Regions from separate parts of the Homo sapiens genome. Here region 2 is linked to region 1. The links come from fine-mapping of genetic effects on gene expression. A gene starts in region 1. The other region holds a variant in brackets. All regions are shown on one strand. Distances are between the middles of the regions.

Evidence for each region. PIP is the estimated chance that this variant, and not a neighbour inherited with it, causes the effect.
Region 2: its variant is the best candidate, but not a certain one, in a credible set for the expression of GDF9 in left ventricle (GTEx, PIP 0.70).

Annotation. Positions count from the first base shown.
Region 1 is chr5:132,864,210-132,868,209 of GRCh38, forward strand. It overlaps GDF9 (growth differentiation factor 9), which reads right to left and starts at 2,260. Exons shown (of 2, transcript NM_005260.7): 1 at 1-2,260. The coding sequence starts at 324. It overlaps UQCRQ (ubiquinol-cytochrome c reductase complex III subunit VII), which reads left to right and starts at 2,433. Exons shown (of 3, transcript NM_014402.5): 1 at 2,433-2,478; 2 at 2,660-2,826; 3 at 3,279-4,000. The coding sequence starts at 2,673. The coding sequence ends at 3,373. RefSeq lists enhancers at 1,712-2,911, 1,770-2,270, 2,271-2,771.
Region 2 is chr5:132,977,052-132,981,575 of GRCh38, forward strand. No RefSeq gene overlaps it. Among named protein-coding and RNA genes, the nearest start is that of AFF4-DT, 16 kb to the left of the region's middle. The variant C/T (reference allele first, on the strand shown) is at 2,027.

The DNA of each region.
Region 1 (4,000 bases):
ACTTCTATTGGATTTAGGAATCCCTTCCTTGGTAGCATATGTCTTATAGAGCTTCTTCATGTAGTGCAAAGCTCTGGAGTCTGGCTGCAGCCTAGGTGACCCACCTCGCCCAACAGATAGAACTTTGAAAAGCGCGGGAAGGAGGCCAGCTCTGTCTCTCTCATCTATATGCTGCAGCAAGGACCAAGGCATAGCCCCAGATTCCAACTCAGCACTAGCAGCAATCTGAGCTTCTCCCCCAGAAGCCTGAGAACCAAGGCTAATAGGAAAACACAGCCAGGCAAAGCAGCAAAACCAAAGGAGGAATTTGTTGGGACGTGCCATGGCTTGGGAGAACTAGTGAGGAACATATTTCTCCATGCCAGTCCTCTTCCTAAAGGCCAGGAAGAGCCTAGCTTGGTCTCTTAAATAAATTTCAGGTGTGTGGGTGGACTACGGTCACTTCTGTAATCAGGCCTCAAGTATGCCTAGCTGAAGATTTTATCAGCTCTATATCAAGCAGCTGATAACACCTTATTTAGCCAATTTGTTAATTAGATACAGATTTACTTGGTTATTTAGCTTTCCTCTCTTTTCCCCTGGCATTTACGTAAAACCCGTTACTGTTACACTACCGGACTAACTATGTAGCTGAAAGTCTAAGATAAATTGAGGAATGATCTTAAATAAAATCTCTCATTTTTTGAGAAATTTGGATTAAGATGTTCGCTAGGTGCTTGCTGAAACTTCTAAGGCATGTGGAAAAGCTAACCAATTATTCATGACGATACTCAGATCTGCTGGTATGCAACTTATGGTATTAGGTTTACTCTTCCTCTCAATTTATCCTCACGGCCTTTTCCACTTCCAGGTGTTTACAATTGTAATTATTCGCTGCATGTTAATTTGCGAATTTACAAATTTGGGTGAGAAAGTCACAATTGGCATAGAAGTTCCAGAAAGCAGAAAACCATTAGGTCTCTCAGTCCTCCCAGGTGGCTGGGTACAGAATACGTACTTGGAGTACTGGAATTGTATTTGCGATGTTCTTAAAAGAGGACACCGCCTTTAACCTTGACTTATTTTTAAATGTAACATACTGATGTCCTTACTTTGGTCTGCACACTCATCTATACATATTTTGGTTGAAAGGTTTTGGGATGTTTGCAGATGCTATAAAATAAATGAACGTTTTATTATTATTCATCCAAATGGTGGTAGAATTTGCCACAATATTTCTGTCCTTACCTGTATTTCTGTTCTTGCCTTGGAGCTGAGACCAGGCTAGACATTATGGTTTAAAAAAATGAGGCAAAGGAGCACCATGAAAAGCTGAAATGAGGGGATATTCAGCGCCACCCCGAAGGAGACTATGCTGGAAGAGTCAGCCTACACTCATAGTGCAAGATACGAAGCCAGTTTGTGCAGTACCTACATGAGAAAACTAAGGTATGTCTGCAAAATACAAGTTGACTGCCTGCCGAGCCTCCGTGGTCCGTAAGTAGTGTTATAAAACACAGCCAACTGTTGAATGAGAGCTTAGTCCTAGATAAAATATGGCCAGCAATTCCATTAACAAAACACTGACAAGACACCTCAGGGCGAGCTGTACATTGACAACAGCATCGTCAAGCAGAATGCACTTCAGGGAAAACATAATAAGGCCTCTCACCCGACTTTCCTTGCTTCTCACGTGGGGAGAAGAAAGAACTGGGGCATCGTGATTCCCCCCACCCCACGCAAACCATCTGGGGAGGACGCTGGCTGCTGTCGAGGCGGCCTCAGCATTCATCAATTGACGATTATTTGATTATTTTTGTGGCTGAAACTGACGAAACGTTTGTATTATCTCTTGGGAACGTTAACAGCCTGCCAGGGGACTCTAAAACAGAGTCCAAGAGAAGCCTTCGATGTGTGTCCCTGATTTTGGTGCTGGGGTCGCTCATGGCCTGAAAATAACGAAGCCCCCTTTGAGCTACTGGCCAAGGCCAAATGAAACCTCGTGCTCCTCTGCTGTGGGGCGGCCCGGCCTCGGGGCTCAGAGGCGCTCTGTCTACAGCTGGGAAGACTCGCAGGCCCCAAGCTCCTGGCCAGCGCTGCCCCGGAGGTCGGCAGGCCCCTTCCTCGTCACCTTTTTGTTCCCTCCCCCGCCTCCCGCATTCGGCCGCTTCCTGACTGGGATTCCACAGAAAAGCCGAGGGCTGAGGAGAAGTGTGAGCGCCTCCGCCTGTCCACTGTCCCCCAAAGTCAGTTCAATCCCCGACGTCCTCCGCTAGGCTCCACCCCACCGGCCCGGGCAGGGCCTCCAAGGCACCTCCCACCTACGGGTCACCCAGTCAGCCCACTTCTTTCTGGGACAAAGGCGTCATCCCTTAGAGACAGTAGGAAAATGGTATCTCCCGGAAGTTACCTCACGACCTCCAAGAGCGGCTTCCAACCTTGCCGGAAATGACGAACGAGTCAACCGGATCGGTGACTGTGGAGGGCGAGCTGAGCCCTGTGCGTGAGTGGGGTCTGGTTGTGCAGTGTTCGTGGACCCTGGGAGGCTAGGGGCGCCCCGCTGGGCTGGGAAAGGATAAGGAGTGCAGGGGCAGGAGTCTGGGGTTGGGGATGGACCCCCGCGGGGACTGCGGCGCTTCGCGAAAGCGAGCCAAGCGCCTGTCCACCCTCGGTCCTGCAGGGCCGCCGCCACAATGGGCCGCGAGTTTGGGAATCTGACGCGGATGCGGCATGTGATCAGCTACAGCTTGTCACCGTTCGAGCAGCGCGCCTATCCGCACGTCTTCACTAAAGGAATCCCCAATGTTCTGCGCCGCATTCGGGAGTCTTTCTTTCGCGTGGTGCCGCGTGAGTGCCTTGGGCCCGCGGGAGCGGGAGGCTGGACCCCAGCAGCAGCAGCAGTCACTGCGCCTCCCCTCTGAGCGCTGGCGGCCGGGCAGGCGCTCTGTAACTTGCCGTACACACCTTTCTCATTGAATATTCCTGACCGCCCTTAAGCTGGTCATATTATCCTCCCCATCTTACACGGGGAAAACTGAGCTACAGAACTGAAATGACTGGCCCAAGGTCACTCGGGTGATTCCAGCATGTTCCTCTGAGGTCACCTTTATTTAGTTCTTACCAGTGGTGAAATGCTTTGTGTTAAACGTGCAGCAGATAGTGATGATAGTTGCATGGCCTTGGATATGCTAAGAACTACTGAAGTGTATGCTTTAAAGAAGACAAGAGGACTGAGACCTTTTTTTTTCTTCTATATGTCTTATATGTGTGCTCTCTGTTTACTCTCTTAATTTTTAAAGAGTTTGTAGTGTTTTATCTTATCTACACATGGGGGACTGAAGAGTTCGAGAGATCCAAGAGGAAGAATCCAGCTGCCTATGAAAATGACAAATGAGCAACGCATCCGGATGACGGTTCCCTGTCTCTGAAAGACCTTTCTCTGGAAGAGGAGTCTGCATTGTAGTGTCTCAAAGACACAATAAACTTCCTATGGTCTGCACTGTTGTGATATTACATTTTTGTGAGTAGAATCCTGTGTGACCACTAATATTCAAGTTCATGAAGCGCCCCTCCTCAGCATGAGTCTTGAAGTTTTGCCTGGTCTCGGGTTTTGGTGAAAGAGCAGGGCTCCCCCTTTGTTCCATTATCTACAAGAAAGTAGCTGCAGGTACTCCTGCATCTAACCATTTGTGGGTGACATGGGCTATGGCGAGTGCTGGTTCTTGGCCCTCTGCTCCCATAGCAACAATAAAGTCTACTAACTATATTGTAATTAGTATGTGTCAGGGACGCTTTTATTTTTTATTTTTTGAGATGGAGTCTTGCTCTCTCACCCAGGCTGGAGTGCAGTGGTGTGATCTCGGCTCACTGCCATCTGTGCCTCCTGGGTTCAAACGATTCTCCTGTCTCAGCCTCCGAGTAGCTGGGATTACAGGTGCAGGACACCACACCTGGCTAATTTTTTGTATTTTTAGTAGAGACAGGTTTCACCATGTTGGCCAGGCTGGTCTGGAACTCCTGA
Region 2 (4,524 bases), 110 kb after region 1:
CATAAATTATAACACATCTTAGCAGATTCCACTTCAGGTTGTACTGAATTTCAAATTCTTTGAAAATATTCTCACATGTACTTATTCCATAGAGACTACTCTTTGAAGCTAATTCTTCAGTCACTTCCAACTTAACATTGCTCATTGAATAAACAACTTAACAGTTTTGCTAACATCCATCACCTTTTTAACAGTCAAAGACATACAGATGAAAAACAAGAAAAGTCTCCAGAAATAAACACCTCTCATTTATAAGTAGTTGATATTGAACAAGAATTCTTTTTTTTTTTTTTCGGAGACAGAGTCTTGCTCTGTCACCCAGGCTAGAATGCAATGGTGTGATCTTGGCTCACTGCAACCTCCGCCTCCCATGTTCAAGCGATTATCCTGCCTCAGCTTCCTGAGTAGCTGTGATTACAGGTGCCTGCCACCACACCTGGCTAATTTTTGTATTTTTAGTAGCAACAGGGTTTCACCATGTTGGCCAGGCTGGTCTCGAACTCCTGACCTCAGGTAGTCTACCTGCCTTGGCCTCCCAAAGTGTTCAGATTACAGCATGAGACACCTCGCCCGGCCCAATGTTCAACAAAATTTCTAAGACAATTTAATCCAATCGCCACTGCACCCAATGACAATTTAGTTTGTTTGTTTGTTTGTTTTTGCAACAGAGTCTCGCTCTGTCGCCCAGGCTAGAGTGCAGCGGTGTGATCTCGGCTCACTGCAAGCTCCACCTCCCAGGTTCACGCCATTCTCCTGCCTCAGCCTTCCGAGTACCTGGGACTACAGGCACCCGCCACTACTCTCCCGGCTAATTTTTTGTATTTTTAGTAGAGACGGGGTTTCACCGTGTTAGCCAGGATGGTCTCAATCTCCTCACCTTGTGATCCACCCACCTTGGCCTCCCAAAGTGCTGGGATTACAGGCGTGAGCCACCACGCCCGGCCCCTGACAATCCAGTTTTTAAAAAATGGTCGCTGGGCACAGTGGCTCATGCCTGTAATCCCAGCACTTTGGGAGGCTGAGGCTGGCGGATCACCCGAGGTTGGGAGTTCGAGACCAACCTGACCGACCAAGATGGTGAAACCCCGTCTCTACTAAAAATACAAAAATTAGGTGGGCGCCGTGGTGGGCGCCTGTAATCCCAGCTACTCAGGAGGCTGAGACATGAGAATAGCTTGAACCCGGGAGGCGGAGGTTGCAGTGAGCCGAGATCATGCCATTGCGCTCTAGCCTGGGCAACAGAGTGAGACTGTCTCAACAACAACAACAACAACAGCAAAATAAAAAATAAAAAATTTTTTTTAAAAAATGGTCAAAGGGGCCAGGCGCAGTGGCTCACACCTGTGATCCCAGCTCTTTGGGAAGCCGAGGCCAGTGGATCACGAGGTCAGGAGTTCGAGACCAGCCTGGCCAACACAGTGAAACCCCATCTCTACTAAAAATACAAAAATTAGCCAGGTGTGGTGTTACGCCTGCAGTCCCAGCTACTCAGGAGGCTGAGGCAGGGAAATCACTTGAACCCAGGCAGTGGAGGTTGCAGTGAGCCAAGACTGTGCCATTACACTCCAGCCTGGCTGACAGAGCGAGACTCCATCTCAAAAAAAAAAAAAAAAAAAAAGGTCAAAGGGCCACAGCACTTTGAGAGCTGAGGTGGGTGGATCACCTGAGGTCAGGAGTTCAAGACCAGCCTGGCCAACATGGTGAAACCCGTCTCTACTAAAAATACACAAATTAGCTAGGCGTGGTGGTGCACGCCTGTCATCCCAGCTACTTGGGAGGCTGAAGCAGGAATTCGCTTGAACCCAGGACATGGAGGTTGCAGTAAGCTGAGATCACGCCACTGCACTCCAGCCTGGGCGACAGAGCAGGACTCCATCTCAAAAAATAAAAATGAAAATAAATAAAAAATGGCCAGAGGATCTCAAAAGACATCTTTCTTTTCTTTCTTCTTTTTTTTTTCTTTTCAGACAGAGTCTTCTCACTCTGTTACCCAGGATGCAGTACAAGTGGCATGATCTTGGCTCAC[C/T]GCAGCCTCCATCTCCTAGCTTCAAGTGATTCTTGTGCCTCAGCCTCCAGAGTAGCTGTGACTACAGGCGTGCACCACCACGACCGGCTAATTTTTACATTTTTAGTAGAGATGGAGTTTCACCATGTTGGCCAGGCTGGTCTCAAACTCCTGACCTCAAGTGATCCTCTCGCCTTGGCCTCCTAAACTGCTGGGATTACAGGGGTGAGCCACGGTGTCTGGCCCTCAGTAGGCATCTTTCCAAAGAAGGTATACAAATACAAATGACCACTAAGCACATAAGAAGATACTCAACATTATTAACCATCAGAGAAATGCATATCAAAACAGTGAGGTATCACTTTATGCCCCCTAGGATGACTACGATCAAAATGACAGATACTTGATTTTGATTATAGTACTAGTGTCTTAGTCTGTTTGTATTGCTATAAAGGAATATCTGAGGCTAGGCAGTTTATAAAGAAAAGAGGTTTATTTTGCTCACAGTTTTACAGGCTGTACAGGAGGCATGGTGCTGGCATCTGTTAGGCTTTTGGTGGGGTCCAACGGCTGTTTCCATTCATGACAGAAGGCAAAGGGGAACCAATGTGTGCAGAGATCACATGTTAAGAGAGGAATCAAGGGAGCAGGGGAAGTGCCAGGCTCTTTTAGAAACCAGCTCTTGTGTAAACTAATAGAGTAAGAACTGACTCACTCCCTGACCAGTGAGGTGATTAATTTATTCATAAGGGATCCACCCCTATGACCCAAACACCTCCCAGTAGGCCCTACATCCAACATTGGGGATCAAATTTCAATATGAGGCTTGGGGATACGAGCATCCAAACTATACTAGTTGTGAAGATGTGGAGAAATTGGAATGCTTATAGATTGCTAGTGGGTTTACACTGTAAAATGGTATAGCTGCTTTGGAAAAGAGTCAGTTCCTCAAAACACTAGATCCAGAAATTCCACTCCTGATAATATACCTAAGTTAACATGTGATCCAGAAATTCCACTTCTGAGTATACACCTAAGAAAATTCAAAACATATTTTCACACAAAAACTTGTACATGAATGTTAACTGCAGCATTATTCAAAAAACCAAAACGTAGAAAACAACCCAAATGTCCTTCAACTGATGAATCCATAATGAAATTGGTATGTACATACGAAATATTATTTGGTAATAAAAAGAAATGAATTACTGATATATGCTACAATATGAACAAACCTTGAAAACATTATGCTGAGTGAAAAAAGCCAGCCACAAAGGAAAATATATTTTATGATTCCCTTTGTATGAAATGTCCACAATAGGCAAATCTATAGAGACACAAAGTAGATTAGTGGTTGCCTATGGCTGGGTGGTTGGGGGGTGGACACTGGAAATGGGTAATGACTGCTAATGGGTACAGGGTTTTGTTGTTGTTGTTGTTTTTGTTTTGAAACAGAGTTTTGCTCTTGTCGCCCAGGCTAGAGTGCAATGGTGCAATCTCAACTCGCTGCAACCTCCGCCTCCAGGGTTCAAACGATTCTCCTGCCTCAGCCTCCCGAGTAGCTGGGATTACAGACATCCACCATCACGCCCAGCTAATTTTTGTATTTTTTAGTAGAGACAGGGTTTCTCCATGTTGGTCAGGTGATCCACCCGCCTTGGACTCCCAAAGTGCTGGGATTACAGGCATGAGGCACTGCGCCCAGCTAGGGTTTCTTTTCATGGTGATCAGAATATTCTAAGATTTATTCTGGTGGGCCAGGCACGTTGGCGTACACCTGTCATCGCAGCGCTTTGGGAGGCCAATGCAGAAGGATCCCTTGAGCCCAAGAGTTCCCGAGCAGCGTGAGCAATACAGCAAGACACTATTGCTACAAAAAAAAAAAAAAAAATTAGGCCAGGCACGGTGGCTCACACCTGTAATCCCAGCACTTTGGGAGGCCGAGGTGGGTGGATCACCTGAGGTAACGAGTTCAAGACCAGCCTGACCAACATGGTTAAACCCCATCTCTACTAAAAATACAAAATTAGCCATGCATGGTGGCACATGCCTGTAATCCCAGCTACTTGGGAGGCTGGGGAAGGAGAACTGTTTGAACCCAGGAGGCAGAGGTTGCAATGAGCCAAGATCACGCCATTGTACTCCAGCCTGGGCAACAAGAGCGAAACTCTGTCTCAAAAAAAAAAAAAAAATTAGTCGGGCATGGTGGTGCGTGCCTGTGATCCCAGCTACATAGGAGGCTAGGGTAGAAGATCTCCTGGGCTTAGGGAGGTCGCAGCTGCAGTGAGCCATGATCATGCCACTGCACTCCAGCCTGGGCAACAGAACGAGTCCTTGTGAGTGTTTCAAGAGACAAAGCAGAAGCTGTAATGCCTCTTATGACCTCACCTCTGAAGTCACACACTGTTATTCTTGTACTATTCTATTGGTCACATAGGTTATCTCTGATTCCATATGGAAAGGGACTATATAAGGTCATAAGTAACTGGAAATTATTATCATTGGGAACCATCTTAAAG